Regions from separate parts of the Homo sapiens genome. Here region 1 is linked to region 2. A link means that fine-mapping ties the variant in region 2 to the expression of a gene that starts in the linked region. Tissue or cell type: whole blood. Region 2 holds a variant in brackets; the other region holds the start of a gene. All regions are shown on one strand. Distances are from middle to middle.

Evidence for each region. PIP is the estimated chance that this variant, and not a neighbour inherited with it, causes the effect.
Region 1: KSR1 starts here. The variant in region 2 is fine-mapped to the expression of KSR1 in whole blood (INTERVAL, PIP above 0.99).

What each region holds. Positions count from the first base shown.
Region 1 is chr17:27,451,722-27,459,806 of GRCh38, forward strand. It overlaps KSR1 (kinase suppressor of ras 1), which reads left to right and starts at 4,727. Exons shown (of 21, transcript NM_001394583.1): 1 at 4,727-5,153. The coding sequence starts at 4,923. RefSeq lists silencers at 4,257-5,016, 5,537-5,586 and an enhancer at 4,392-4,893.
Region 2 is chr17:27,526,766-27,534,867 of GRCh38, forward strand. All of the region lies in intron 1 of KSR1 (kinase suppressor of ras 1), which reads left to right. It also overlaps the pseudogene MSANTD3P1. Among named protein-coding and RNA genes, the nearest start is that of KSR1, 74 kb to the left of the region's middle. RefSeq lists a silencer at 6,126-6,311. The variant C/T (reference allele first, on the strand shown) is at 4,276.

The DNA.
Region 1 (8,085 bases), 75 kb before region 2:
CCTGAGGGATCTTTAAAACTCTCCACCTGAAAAGAACGTGACTTTCTTAGAGTACCGTGTTTCTAAAAATTTAATCTATTTTTGGGTCATGTGGGAATTTTGCTAAGATGCAGTTTGTGATTCAGTTATCTGGGGTTGGGCTCAAGACTGCGTTTCTAATAAGCTCCCAGGCCATACAGTTGCTGCTGCTCCTGGACCGCATTAGGAGTAACAAAGGCTTGGAGAAAAACCCAAACTTCCTTCCCATGTCCCACTTTATCTGGCCCCTGCATAGCTCTCCCACATCATCTCCAGCCCTTGCTCCTCTCCCTCATCTTGCTATGGCTTCTCTGGCCTTCACTTTGTTCCTGGAGTATGCCAAGCTGCTCCTACCTCAGGGCCTTTGCACATGATGTTCCCACTGCCTGGAGTGCTCCTTTCCTGGAACATTCCACATGGCTTGCTTTTCCTTATTTACATCTTAGTTCAATGGTCAGATAATAATTCTCTGTCCACTTCACCTAGTGAAGTACCTTAGCCACCAGAGACTCTCGGCTATTTGCTTTCTTCTTCTTCTGCGTAGCACTTATGATTCTCAGTTTATTTTGGTAATATATTTGTTGACATTCATTTCCTGTCCTTCCCTTCATGTATGTTCCACAGGGATAAGGACTCGGCTTCCTTCGCTTTGAGCCTACCCCAGAGCCTGGCGCATGCTAAGTGTCCTCTTCATGTTTCTTGGGCCTGTGCATGAAAATGCTCCCACCGCTGCTGTTGGTGTTTGGATGCAGACAAGCTCGGAAAAGCAATGAAGGGACCCGAGACAGAGGAGAGGAAGGAGAGAGTAAGCAAACTTTCTCTACTGAGGTGCCTCAGAAAAAGCCTCAAGAACCTGGAGATGATGCTGAAACCCTGAATCAACACATAATAGATCAATTCATCTAACTAGAAGAGATTCATTCTGGAAGGTGAGGAAGAAAGTAATGCATAGTTCAATGAGTTAAGCATTTGGAACAGTTTCAGTAGACATACAGTAAATATTTATCAAATAAATAAATATGCCGAACCCTTATTTTATGACCATTACTTTGTGTTATATAATCTGTTCATCCTCATAAAACATTATCACCATCTTGCAAATAAGAAGCTGTGCTACCAGATTAGGAGATTTGCCCGAGGTCATATAAGACTCGTCAAAGGTCATACAGCGATTCAGAGACAGAGCTGACTACCCTACTCTCTAAAACAGCTCTATTCGAAGTTGTAAAGGCCATATTCCCTGTCCCCTTCCCTGCAGTGCCATACCACCTGTTACCACTGACACACTGTGCATTTATCTGCTTGTCTGTTTCCTCTCACCACAGCATAAATTCCCTAAGGGTAAGAATCTTCATTTTGTTCACTACCCTTTTCCAGAGCCCAGAACAGGGCCTGCCATGTAAGTGGCACTTCATGAATGCTTACTGAATGTTAAAAGGATGAATGAAGGGATTATTTAAAAATCCTTATTTCGGCCAGGTGCCATGGCTCATGCCTGTAATCCTAGCACTTTTGGGAGAGTGAGGCCAAGAACAGGAGTTTGAGACCAGTCTACATGACACAGCAAGACCCTGTCCCTACAAAAAATTTAAAAATTAGTCAGATGCGGTGGCAGGCACCTGTAGTCCCAGCTACTCAGGAGGCTGAGGCAGGAGGATGGCTTGAGCCCAGGACTTTTGAGGCTGCAGTGAGCTTTCTCGCACCACTGCACTCCAACCTGGGCAACAGAGCAAATCCCTGTCTCTTAAAAACAAAAAACAAAAACAAAAAAGTTTCTCCACCTCTGAGGGGCAGTTCTGTAAACTTGTGGCTGACAGATGACTCAAATCCAGGCAAGAAGGCTGGAGGCCATCTGTGAGGAAGGAAAACTGTGGCCTGCTGAATGCTCTGGATAATCAGAGGGAAGACTGTATCCACAGAGGACAGACTCGCTGCATGGAACCTGGCGGGAGAGTAACCAGGGAGCTGGCATTTGTCCAGTCTCAGGCTCTGACATCACCCCTGTGGTGACATGGGTGGGCATGAATGCCACAAGCTGGCAGTGGCTCTTCTCAGGATGTGGCTTCCCACATAAAGTGGCCCTAGAGGGAGAATGTGATGACCAGGTCCCTGTGGCAATAACAAGTTTGATGTAAGTGCATAAATAGGCACTTACCAGAACATTTCTTGTGAGCCAGGCATGGTAGTTCACGCCTATAATCCCAGCACTTCAGGAGGCTGAAGGGGAAGGATTGCTTGAGCCCGAGAGTTTGAGACCAGCAGCCTGGGCAACGTAGAGAGACTCCATTTCTAAAAAAAAGGAAAAAAAAAAAAAAGTTAACGTTAGCCGGGCATGGTGGCACACTCCTATAGTCCCAGCTACTTGGGAAGCTGGGGTGGGAGGATCGCCTGAGTCTGGGAGGTCGAGGCTGCACTGAGCCATGATCATGCTACTGTACTCCAGCCTGAGTGACAGAGCAAGACCCTGTTTCAAAAAAAAAAAAATCTTTTGTGAATTGTGTTAGAATGAGTGAGTCGTTCAAGCCTGGCAGCTCTGGCTGCTGGACAGAGGCTCTGAACCAGCCAGGTTGGGTTGTGGATAGTCCCTTGAGATAGTTCTCTGCCCACTGACCTTCCTCTGTGCCTAGGCTTCTCAAAGTATAGACTTGCGACTGGGCTCAGACTAACCACATCAGTACCACCTGAGAACCTGATAGAAATGCAGATTCTCCTGCCCTGTCCTCTGATCTACAAAATTAGAAACTATAGAGGTGAGCTCCATGGTTCTGGGAATTAACAAGCCCTCCAAGTGATTCTGATGCATGTTCAAGTTTGAGAACCACAACTAGTTTCCCTTTCATAATAGTTACTACTTTGCAAGGAGTCGGATGGGGTTAAGGTAACAGGTTGAGAAATTCATAATATCGTGCAGGCGGTCTTTTTATAAGTTGAGTGAGGACTGGATCAATGACTCTCAATGGGAAAGGCCAGGGGTTAGGGAGGAACCTCCTTGCATTTGGAAAATCTCGAGGAGGGGTTAATTTGCAAAAACAAGTTTTAAAGTTATAGTTTTGCTTCCTAGACCTGATTTTTAAAAATTTATTATTTTTTTTAGAGACAGGGTCTTGTCACATTGCCCAGGCTGGTCTCGAACTCCTGGCTTTAAGTGATCCTTCCCCCTTGGCCTCTCAAAAGTGCTGGCATTACAGGCATGAGCCACGGTGCCCAGCCCTTAATTTATTTCGAAGGCTGGTGTAATATAAACATTAAAGGAAGGTGTAATACAAACTGCCATCCATTATTGATTGTTTTAGTGTCTACAAGGTTTGGATCCCACCTCCTGTCCAATTCTCATCCTCAAACACAAAAACAAAACCAAAAAAACAACTGTCTATCTACACACACACACACACCCTCGGCTGGCCTGAGAGGTAAAAGAAACATCCCATAGGACCTGCTGAAAGAGCTCCTGAGGCACGCTGGAGCCTTTCTTGTGTGCCATGCACTGTATCTGGCACTATAAAGAGGGTACAATAGCTAGTGGCTTCTGCAATCAAGCAGCTTACAAGAGAAAATTGAGAGGGGAGACATTTTTTCTGGTTGACAGATGTCGAAAGCATGAAGGTGTGGGAGCTTTGATCAGAGACTTGGTTTTTCAGTTTTGCCAGATAATAGAACGCATGGGGTGAACTAATGGGAGAGGAGGGTGAACAGATGGGCAAGGCTTGATTGCTGGGTTAGGAGGCACAGAAATGCACAGAGGACAAAGGACTACCAGTCCTTGGCAGTACTGTACTGCTCCATGGCCACTACCTGGGTCCAGGGCCACATTCAGATCTGAGGTTAGATAGTAAGAATTGCTAACATTTATCCAGCGACCACATGTGCCAGTAATCAATCTAGGTGCTGTACATGTATTAACTGATTCTTCATAGGAACCCTATTAAAGAGTTATTTGATGAGGAGAGTCGGGCATTCACTGGAAATCGAACGTGCCCAAAGTCTCACCCTAGACCGTGGTGGAGTCAGAATTTGAATCCTGGCCACTTGCTCCGAAGCCACCGACAATTCAGTGTGCTGTCCCCCGTGTCTGGGCTGGCTTGGTGGGCTGGGAATGGCGGGGGAATGGGACACTTATTTTGGCAGGTAAATGTGGTTCAGAAGAAAGCTCTTCGTCTTTCTCCAAGCCTGAGCAATCGTTTTGGCGCAGGCAGTCCAGAGTAGAGCGCTTTGTGAGCCAGCTACAGAAGTGCTGTAAGCCCCTTCCCACTAGATGGCAGCCCCTAAACCCACATACAAATCCTGGAACCTCCCTGGTCCCCATCTTCCAGGGCTGGGCTGCAGCTGAGGAACTGCGGGACGCACACCCGCCGGGCGTCCAGGGGGCGCCGCCCCATCCGGGGGTCGCGGGAAGCTCCTAGGCCGGGTGGGGGACGGAGGCGGACGGGGAGACGCTGCTCCCCCGACTCTCGGCGCCTGGGGGAGGAGCTGGCGCGGAGCAGCTCCACCCGGGGCTCCCGGTTGGGGCCGGCCCTCACCGCCTGCCTCGCCGCGGCCGCCGGGAGGGGAGGGGAGAGGAGGGCAGGGAGGGCGGCGCGGGCGCGGTCCGGGGCCCCGAGGGCGGAGGCCGGCGGCAGGTGCGCGGCGTGGACTACAAGTCCCAGCATGCCCGGCCGCCCTGACCCAGCCCCCGCCGCCGCTTAAAGGCTCCGGGAGCCGCAGCCGTCGGGTCGCCGCGGCTTTCGCTTTGCTGCCGCGGCTGGGAGGGTGGAAGCGGCAGACTCAGCGGCCGGCTCTACCGGCGTCCCGGCTCGGGCAGCGCCGAGGGGCGCTCCTGGTCCAGCTCTCCTGGCTCGGGGGTTCCTTGCCGAGGCGCCCGCGCCCCGGGCTCCCAGCCTCGGCCGCCGCGGCCCCGATGCCGAGGCATGGATAGAGCAGCGCTGCGCGCGGCGGCGATGGGAGAGAAGAAGGAGGGCGGTGGCGGGGGGGATGCGGCGGCCGCGGAGGGAGGCGCAGGGGCCGCGGCCAGCCGGGCGCTGCAGCAGTGCGGGCAGCTCCAGAAGCTCATCGACATCTCCATCGGCAGCCTGCGCGGGCTGCGCACCAAGTGCGCTGTGTCCAACGACCTCACCCAGCAGGAGATACGGACCCTGGAGGTAAGTGGGTCGGGGACCAGGCTGGGCTCGAGGAGCGGGCCCGGACACCTCCCTCCGGGCCCCAGTACTCCTGGCCGAGTTGCATCCTTGAGCCCGCGTCGCCCCCCTTGGAGGCTTCCCCTCCCTCCTGCACTCGCTGATGCGGCAGCCGGAGGACCCGGGACCAGCCCTCATCTTGGGCAGGATTTGTGGGGCGGGTGCGTCGTGGGAACTGGGATGGAGGCTCGAGGGGCCCGTGCGGGGTGGGCTGCGCGCGGACATCCCCTTTCCCCCCTTCTCCGCCCCCACCCCATTTCCAGTTTGCGGGGCCGCAGGACTCGTTGTCCCACCGAGTCACAAGCTGGACTTTTCCCCGTGTGACTGAGCCGAGCACCCGTGGGCCAGGGTGACGGAGGAGGTTCCCCTGAAGCGTGATCGCAGGCCTGCCGTCCCCTGTTCCCCTCACGCCCCAGACGCCGTCCTGTCCCTTCCTTTCCTCTCCTCTCAGGTCTTGTCTGCCGCCTTTTCAAAAAGTGTTGCTGAAACTGCATTTTTGTTATTCAGGCGTTTGGTGCTTTCCTTTCACGTTGCCACGGAGGCTCGCTGCTTAAAATGTATTAATAATTACCCGCTGACTCCCCCTGCTTCCCCCCAAAGATTGGATTTAGGCTTAGGAAGGATTATGCTGGGAAGCAAGCCTTTGGTGGGAAGATGAAACTGTTTAAAGGGTTCTGATGGAGACAGTCTGGAGTGTAAAGAAGAAATAAGATATGCGGGCCTTCCTCTCTCAAATTATAGCTGGGGAAGTATCTGAAGGATTTGGAAAAACCAGCCCGAGGGTTGTTGGGGCACCCTGTCCATACACAAATGAGGGCAACTAGTGGATTCTGAATGTGATTTTGGCCAGGGACGGGGCGGTGAAACGTCAGACCAGTTAATAGCTGCCCCGTCTTGAAGAAGGAACCTCTCACCATCTTGCCCTGCCACATCTGGCCTCCTGCAGGTCTGGGGATGTTTTGTTTTATTAGATCCTCAATTTCTCCTCCCCCAAACCCTCCCCCCGCCCCTTATTGCTAATTGCCTCTGCCAGCTGTCATAAGGCCCTCTGTGATCGCGGTAATTATTACAAGACCAATCCTTCCTCCAGGCATGCCACAAAGCCGAATCCTTGTTTGATTCCAAATGCTCGGGGGTGACTCTCCCTCAGTTTTATTTTCTTAAAAGCTATAAAACCACAGGACATTGGAAGAATACAGTCAGTGCTGGGTATTATTATTTTTTATTACAGTTGGCTAAAGCTGTACTGACCAAGGCTTTGCTTAAAAAACAAACAAAACCCCCTACAACTGGCCTTTCTGCATGCATGCTGCAGTTTTCCAAGTATTGAGAGAAACTGATTTTTTGAACACAGCTGAGTGTGTTTGCTCAGCAAAGTTCAGTTTTTAAGCTGACAACAATAGGGGGCCTGTGAGGCTCAGTTCCGGGAGGAGGGGTCGCTGTCTGGCAGAGTGTGCGTGGTTGGACTTCGGTGTTGCTGGGCTTGGAGAATGCTCTCTGTGTTGGCCTCTGTGGGATTGTCCCCACGTTGCTCTGAAGTGCTCCTGGCTTCCAGAGTGTGTATATAGGAGAACCACTTGCTGTGCATTCTCTGGAATGGCCTTTTGTCCTACCCTAACTTCCGGAGTCCCTCATTTTGATGGCAGTGTGGCGTTCATGACACCCCAGAGCATCCAGCTATTTAAGTGTTGGAGCTGGTTTATTCAGTGGCTTCCCTCCTGAGTGTTTGTTTAGACGATCATCCCTGGCAGCAGAGAACCCATCCAAAGGCCCACAGGGGATCTGCAGCTCCCTGTTCTTCCCACCGTGATGTGGATTCGGGTTCACTCCACTTCCTGAAAAGGCAGGGCCTGGGTTGTTTTGGGGGATGGGAATTTAGACCCCTGGAGTGAGTTCCATGGGGCTGCCACCAGCTAGTTTAGATGAGTCACTTCATCCCGGAGGCCTCAGCCTCCTCACCTGCAAAACAAGGAGGCTGGAGTGGATCTCTGAGGGCTCTGGAAGCTCGAAATTCTCTAGGTTAGAGAAGGAGACTTGGTTGGGTGAAATCAAATGTTTGTGATTGTTTTTATACTACCCTGGTTTAAGAATAACCCTCTTTAAGAATGGTTCTAAAATCCAGATTTACTGAACCCATAACATAGGGGTTAAGTTTATTAGAAGAATCTTTGCCATAGGAGCAGCGTGGTGAATAGGAAGCCCCATGGCTTTCATACTGGGCCTGGGTTCTGTCTGTGTGACCTTAGGCAAGTCCCATGACTTCTGAATCTCAAGCTCTCCTGTCTGTAAAATAGGAACGAGACTGCTCACACCTGCAGCATTTTGTCTGTCAGTCCGTGCTGATACTACGAAAAGAGTCTGCCTGGCAGCTGCCCCTAGTGAGGGTCCAGTAGCATTTATGGCACAGGCCACCACTAGGGAAACTTAACCCCTACTGGACCCTTGCTAGGGAAACTTAACCCCCTACTTTATGGGTTCAGTAAATCTGGATTTTAGGGAAAGGTACTTCTGCAGCTGCCTCTCATTTCATACAGGTGGGTGACACAAGCCAGGAAACAATCTCAGCAAGCTGGGTGGGACCGTCCACCGCCAGCAGCATGTGTTGGGGCCAGGCAGGCAAGTGGCAGTGTCCACTCCAGCGTTCTTTCCTGTTCTGTGGGCTCCCCACACACCAGGCCGTGGCCCCAGAGACTGTGCTTGCAACACTGGATTCCTGGCTTTTGAAGAAGGATCTGACCTGGAGGGCTTGGCCTGTGCAACTGCATCGGACTTATCTAGAATCTGAGGAGCCCCAGCTCACTCTGGCCTTCATTAAATAAACACTCAGTGGGAGAAGCAGCACGTGAAATGTCCGTGGAGGTCCCTGACCAGGGATGGGCTGCTGCTGCCTGAAATT
Region 2 (8,102 bases):
CACAGTTCTCTATTTGAAACAGCAAATGATTCTTGGGCCGTGGCGTGGTATTTGGGCTCCTCCTCCGGGGGGAGGGGTGGAAGGAGTGCTCTGCAGGAAGTAGAGCTGCTCCAGCAGCATGCTGGTGATCTCCTTCCCTAGGACTTGGTTACTCAGGAGGGGGCTGACGCTCCCTTTCACCTTCTCTCTCCTTTCATGGGCCATAATTGTTTTAGTCCAAGCCTTGATGTTCTCCCAGCCCTTCTTCAGCTGTTTGAAATCCGGCAGGGACAGCTCGGCTGAGAGTTGCATTCGTGGGTCAGCGCCTGCAGGTACATTGATTGCTTAAGGGCAATAGTTCACACATCACTTTTCTTACATTCCAGCACATATTTGTACTTTTCTACTAAAATCAGCAGGGTACTCTTTTCTAGTTCTGAGAAGTATTTGGCAGGTTTTATAATTTCATTGTTTTGCATTTTCCACTATATTTCCCCTGGCCGCCAGCTATCCTGTAATCCCAGCTACTTGGGAAGTTGAGGTAGGAGGACTGCTTAAGCCCAAGAGGTCAAGGCTACAGTGAGCCATGTTTGCACCACTGCACTCCAGCCTGGATAACAAAAGGAGACACTGCAGTGGCACACCCGCCCCCCCCCCCCCCTTTTTTTTCTTTTTTGAGACAAAGTCTTGCTCTGTCACCTAGGCTAGAGTGCAATGGCGTGATCTTGGCTCACTGCAACCTCCGCCTCCTGGCGATTCTCCTGCCTCAGCCTCCCGAGTAGCTGGGACTACAGGCACCAGCCACCAAGCCTGGCTAATTTTTGTATTTTAGTAGAGATGGGGTTTTACCATGTTGGCCAGGCTGGCCTTGAACTCCTGACCTCAAGTGATCCACCCACCTTGGCCTCGCAAAGTGCTGGGATTACAGGCGTGAGCCATGCCCGGCCTGACTTCTTGTTTGGGGCACAAATCAGACTGTATAAGAATCATGAGAAAAACAATAATATCTTGGGCTTTCACCAAATGTTTTATCCTGGTCAGCAGTATCTTTAGAAGACACAAATTTTCATAGTTTCTTGATTTTAGGATATATTTCATAGTTTAATATTTCTGAAATTGGGAGGCTTTGTACGATGTCTTTAATGTAGTAATTCTTTGCTCTCCCCAAATGCTGTTATTACATTGATTATGTGTCTCATAAATGAACATCCCTACCTCTTGTGGGTCATCCAGGATGGAATTTGTTTTATTGGTCAGTAGAAAAGGCTATGACCTAATTAGTGTATCGAGTAGGTATTCTGTGTAAGTTAATGCATTTATTTTGTTTTTTATTATTTTTGAGATGAAGTCTCACTCTGTTGCCGAGGCTGGAGTGCAGTGGTGCCATCACGGCTCACTGCGACCTCTGCCTACTGGGGTTCAAGCAATTCTTGTTCCTTAGCCTCCTGAGTAGCTGGGATTACAGGTGCGTGCCACCATGCCTGGCTAATTTTTGTATTTTTAGTAGAGAGAGGGTGTCACCATGTTGGCCAGGCTGGTCTCAAACTCCTGACCTCAGGTGATCTGCCCACCTCAACCTCCCAAAGTGCTGGGATTACGGGTGTGAACCACTGTGCCTGGCCAAGTTAACACGTTTAGTCTTTAACACATTTGGTCTTTGGAAGAAACTGAAGCTCAGGAATGGATCAGTAATTTGTTAAAGGTCACACCGCTAGAAAAGAGTGGATCCAGTATGTGAGCCCAGCTCTGTCTAATCATGATGTTCAGTTCTTTCTCCTTCCCAGGAGAGACCTGTACTTCTTCACTTCTGGCTCCTGCTGTTTTTTTAAGCTGAGGATGTCCTCTTCTCTTCCTATTGAAACTCCATTTCTGGGCCAGGCATAGTGGCTCACGTCTGTAATCCCAGTGCTTTGGGAGGCTGAGAAAGGAGGATCTCTTGAGCCCAGGAGCTTGAGACCAGCCTGGGCAAGATGGTGAGACTCTGCCTCTACAAAAATTAAAATAAAAAAAGTTAGCTGGGTATAGTGGTGTTCACCTGTAACCCCAGCTACTCAGGAGGCTGAGGTGGGAGGATTGCTTGAGCCTGGGAGTGTGAGGTTGCAGTGAGCTACGGTCATGCCACTGCACTTCACCCTGGGTGACAAGAGAGACCCTGTCTCTACTGGAAAAAAAAACCACAAAAATCCCAAAACAAAACTTACACCACCTGTTCCCCAAAAACCTATTGGATAAAAAAACTCCATTTATTATTCTTTCAGTTTGGATAACATTTTATGATTATAAAAATGACACCCGTTCTTTAAAAATACAAAAAAGTAAATAATAAAACTTTCCAGTGTTTACATTTTGAGATGTTAATTTTGCTATAAAAATAGAAATTGACCTCAAAGTTGAAAAAAGAAAATTAATGCCTTAAATTAAAATAAAAAAGATATGTGAAGATCATACTGCAAATGTAGTTTTCTTACCTTGAGTTGTTAACTTTCTAGAAGATTATGGGCATTGCCTCATATGATTAAGTACACTGTTAAAAGGGACTTAAAAAAAAAAAGTTGCCTCATAGTGTTCTGTGATTGACACACCAGAATGTAGTTACCTACTTCCCCATGTTTGGCTATTTTAAGTTACACTTCCGTGAATAGGCTTATGCTTACACTTAATTGTTTCTTTAGGATAAATTCCTAGAAGTGGAGTCTGGCTCAAGGGGTGAGGGCCACCTGGTGAGGCTTCTGTTGCATCATCCTGTTTCTCTGCTGCCCTCCAGGGGGGCGATGCCGCTCCACGCTCCTGCCATGCTCCTGCCACAGCCACACTGGGGAGTCCCTCTGCCAATGTTGCCAAACATCTGCCCATATGTTTCCATTTTGTATTTCCTTGCTTATTATTAAGGTGGGAGGTTTGTTATGGTTGCCGGCAGAGGTAACTTTCCTTTGAGATAAACATGTATATTTCCTTGGCCTGTTTAACTGACTTGTTTGTGCAACCCCAGTCATTCTTCAAGACCCAATTCAAAGCTCATCTTTTCCATGAACTCTTTCCCGACACCCGTCTTTTCTCTGAAGCTGGAAGCTTTAATTTTCATATCTGAATTCTCACAGCCTGTGTGTATCTGAAAACCCTTGTCAAAGACACTTTTGCATTGCAACTTGATATCTTTGGCCCCCACTTGAATCTGAGGTCTTTAGGGTAGGAGATGGGTCATTCATTTCTGTGTTGTTTGCAGGGCCTTGGCACCATACTGGGTAACTAGTGGGTACTCGATACTCTTGAATGGATGGATAGATGGACACACACTGTTCTTAACAAACCAACCAACCCATCCCACACCCGTCAGCAAAATGAGTTTAATGCCACCTTATGAAATTGCTCTCTTCCTTTCCGCATCTTTGCCTTTGGAATCAGTGAGGTTTTGCTCCATCTAAAGACCCAGCAGGGGCTGGGCGCAGTCCCAGCACTTTGGGTGGCTGATGTGGGTGGATCGCTGGAGCCCAGGAGTTTGAGACCAGCCTGGGCAACATGGTGAAACCCTGTCTGTACAAAAAATACAAAAATTAGTTGGGTGTAGTTGTGTGTGGCAGTGGTCCCGGGTACTCAGGAGGCTGCGGTGGGAGGATCGTTTGAGCCTGGGAGGTCGAGGCTACACTGAGCCGTGATTACACCACCGCACTCCAGCCTAAGCAACAGAGTGAGACCCTGTCTCAAAAGAAAAAAAAAAGACCCAGCAGGGCAGATGGAGTAACCAGCAAAGCCGACCTTAGTGGTGAGGCTGGGCATGGCGGCCTGAGCAGGGATCGGCTCCAAATAGTACGTCTACCGTGGGCTCCTGGACCTTTCTCCCTTTGCTAGAAGAGAAGCACCAGCACCCTCCCTTTTCCTCTTGTGACATTTTAAAATGTATTATTCCCATTCATAGCCTTATAAAATCAGTACGCAGTAATTAGAGAACATTTGGAAAACACAGAAAAGTAGAAGGAAGAAAATAATTACCTATAGCCTTCCCACTCAGATCAGCCCATTCACAGATGACATTTCTGCTGTGTTTTCTTTCAGTTGTGTTTTCCAGGCAAAGACTTTGTGTGCGAGGTTTTGCTTACGTAGTTCTTGCCATCCATCATGTAGATTTTTTTGTCCTGCCTGTCGCTTAGTAAAATAACACAAAAAACTTCCTATGTTTTTGTAAACCTGCTCAGTGGCTCTGTCATAGTTTAGTAAGTGGTTTTACCATCACCTCCTTAGCTGTGCTTCCATTGTTGGGGCTTTGGGTTGTTTGCACTGTGTCCCTCTTGTAAACAATGT[C/T]GGGATGGACAAGTTTGTGCTGGGCGTTTCCTTGTCCCTTTGGCTGGTTACCTCAGGCAGACTGGCCCATACCAGCCCTTCCCCGCTTCATTCTCCTCCCTTGGGGCCAGTGCCCTATTCGCCTCTCGGTTTGTGTTTCTCAGTCTCCATGTGTAGCAATATGTTGAGAAACAGCTTCCTTTTTCAGGAAGAAAGCTCAAGATGTTGAACCTCGAGGAGGCTGTGCACAAAGGTGCAGAGTCCTGCCTGCTGGGTCATGGCCTTGGCACTGCAGGGCGGCCCCCTTCTGCCTCACAGGCCCAGGGTTACAGAAGGTGCAGGTGACGGGGAGGCCACGCCTTTGAAGGGGCTGCCTGGCAAACCTTTTCCCCTGACAGTAAGCTGAGGGGGTGGCCCTGGTCACATGTTGCAGGTCTCTGGAGGGGGTGTAGTGAATACCTGAGTCCATTTTCTGCCTGGTCCCACACTCGGATCCGTCATGGAAGATCTGGCCCCTGTGTTCTGTGGGCGAGTGCTTGGGGGAGAACCCCTCCTGTGGGGCTGCTGAGATGTGTGCTGTGCTGGAGGTGGCTTCAGCCCTGCTCCTCTGAGCAGCTGCTTGGGGCATGCTGTTGAGCTCCAGAGAGCACTTCAGCATATAGCCAGCAGCGCCCTGAGGAGCTGCAGTGACAAAGGCCACTGTGGCACTCAAGGCTCAGGTTTGGATGGTGGAGTAACATTGCCTAGGTTCACCTCCCACCCTGGACAGTTACTTTATCTCTCTTTCATCTCCACTTGGGGATAGTAATAACACCCACCTCCCCAGATGAAATGAGTTAGCATTTTATACACTTCTCAAAACAGTCCCTGTTTGTTAAATAAAAATAGGGAACCAGCGTTACCAGCTAGACCACTCGCTCACAGCAGGTTGAACCCAGGACTTCTGCCATCCAGTATGGGGGAAAGAGTGCTGGACAGAACCAGGAGACCGTCCTGGCACTGCCTTCTACTTTGTGTGAGTTTGACTAAGTCGTTGTCCCTCTCTGGGCCTCAGTTTCCTCATCAGTTTTTCATCTATTTCTGTGAGATGACCTTAGGCCCTTCTTGTCTTAGAACATCCAAGGATTTTGTAATTTAAAGGCATTTCAGACATCTGAAGATGGGTCTGGTCCTGCTAATAATCCTCACTGGTTGACGTGGTCCTTAGATGGGGCCAATTGCAAAGGTCAGAGGGCAGGAGATGCAGAGCCCTGTGGGGTTTGCCCGGTTTTTCTCAGTGCGGGTGAGCTATCCTCCACCTGGAGGGTTATGGTAGCTGGGTCACCTGGGAACAGGCCGTGGGAGAACTGGCCTCCTTGGGAATGTGTTGTCCTGCGCGGCAGAGCACTTTCAGGTACGGGCTGCTCTGTGAGGCCACCCTGTGCTCCAGCCCGCAGCACTTGAGACTGACTTGCCCTGAGGTTTGTGTGAGCGAAATCGGGTCTTATGCAACAGTGAGTGCGTGCATCTCCGCTTCGAGCTGTTACATCAGAAAGCTAAACACAGAGAGCCCTTGCAACTGGAGAACTAGCAGGAGGCCCTCGCTCTGGTTCTTTGTCAGCGGGTGGGACGGGGTAGGATGTGGCTTACAGGCAGCTGTGGAGGAGAGGACTGTGCTAGGAAAGAGGTTGGAGCTGGTGGACTCTCTCCCAGGCGCTGCTTTTCCAACAGGCTTTCTGGAAGGTTCTGGCCTCCTTCTGATCAGGTGGCAGAGCATCCCTGGGGCTCCTCACCAGTATTCGTGTGCTCTGGGTCAGTGATGTCTCCATCTGCATCACTGCTGGTGGAGCACAGTGGGAAAGGTCAGCCTTCAAACTGTGGAAGGTCAGACCCAGCGCCTCAAGCCTGGAGGGGCAGCGTGGGGCATCAGCCTCTTATGAGTTTAAGTTGGCTCTGACACATACCAGCTGGGTGACGTTGGGTTGGCTTCCTGACCCTCTGAGTCCTTTTTTATAAATGAGAACATTTGTACCAAGATGCCCAGCATTGGCCTGATGGACAGTAGGCACCCCAAAAGTCTCAGTCATTTAAGGAAGTAATGTAGCCCATGGTTAAGAGCATGGGCTGAGCAGCTGAACTTCCTGGGTTCAGTTTCTTGCTCTGCCACTTACTAGCCGCATGACATGGGACTGTTCCTCATCCTCAGTTTACGCCTCTGTACAATGGGGATAGTTGTGATAGGGCGTCTCTCACAGGTTTGTTGCAAGGATTAAGTGAGTTAATTCAGTTGTCCCTTGGTATCCATGGGGGAGTGGTCCCAGGAACCCCTGAGGATACCAAAATCCACAGATTCTCAAGCCCCCTTAGTACAGATGCAGATGCAACCATTCTTTTTTTTTTTTTTAAGATGGAGTATCACTCTGTCACCAGGCTGGAGTGCAGTGGCATAATCTTGGCTCACTGCAACCTCTGCCTCCCGGGTTCATGCAATTCTCCTGCCTCAGCCTCCCGAGTAGCTGGGACTACAGATGCACACCACCATGCCCAGCTAATTGTTGTATTTTTAGTAGAGACAGGGTTTCACCATGTTGGCCAGAATGGTCTCGATCTCTTGACCTTGTGGTCTGCCCGCCTCGGCCTCCCAAAGTGTTGGGATTACAGGTGTGAGCCCCCGCACCCAGCCGCAACCATTCATTTTTTTAAAAAGATTTCTGATCTGCCGTTGAATCTATGGATGCAGAACCCACAGATCCTAAGGGCTGTCTGTACGCATAAAGCACTTAAAGCAGTGTCTAGCGCATAATAGTCACCCTTGTTGGAGTTAGCTGTCATTGTCTAATTTCTTCAATAAGGGTGGTCAGTTGATTTCTTGAGAGCTTGGCAGCATACCGCCTCTCTTTATTTTGAGATGCATCCCCACCCTGTTCAGCTAGAGCTTGTCCAAGGTGACAGGTGCGTGTGCGCACGTGTGTGTGTGTCTTTTTCAGCCATGTCACCACTATCCAGGTCTGGAGAGTAGCTCCCCTTGCAGCCTGGGGGCCAGGCCTCTCCTCGGCTTGCTTCTTCAGGCTGTGTGCATCTTGTTACCCATCCTGGTTTGCCTCCCTCTTCTGCACAGACTGTGCTCAGAGGTTCGTGTTGCACAGTTTGGCTCGGGTGTGCCCAGCTCTTGACCTGAGAATAAAGTAAGGGCCAGGAAAGCCATCCTTTCAGTGTGAGTGTGTTCCAGCCACGCCTGGCCTTGTCTACGTTTGCCCATTTTCAAGGAATACACCAGGGTAGCTTGGGACATGCCATGTAGATGGAGTCATCCAGGAATGTGTTTAAGAATCTTAAAGCAATAAACAAGTCAGACTAACTGCTTTCAAAGAGTACAAGAGACTGGAATTTTCATGATAGAGATGGCTGACAATGAGTGTTAATCTATTATAGCAGGCCTGATGTCTTCAGCAATAGACATCCCCCTCTTCCCCCATTTTGCAGATAAGGAAACTGAGGCAGAGGGTGGTTAAGTAATCTGAGTTAAAGCAGCTAGTCAGTGGCCGAGCTGGGATTTGAACCCGGGTCTGTTGGCCTCTAGGCCCCAGCACCTGACTATCCATCACTATACTGCCCCTGGCTGGCATTCCTGGGATTATACAGCAGCGGCATCCTGTTGCCTGAGCCCTTTCTCATCCCCCGCTAATGATAGTGCTAGTAATGTGAGTCCAGTTACAGCTGTGTTGCCTGAGGTGCACAGGGCCTAGGGGGATAACTGCGTTGTCTTTAGCCATTGCTTGTTAGAGAAGGTGGTCTTGCCTTCTTTCTCCCTCCCAGAGCTGATGTCACCTAAACCCTGCTGCAATATTATTCCTGGGTTTCAGGTCTGA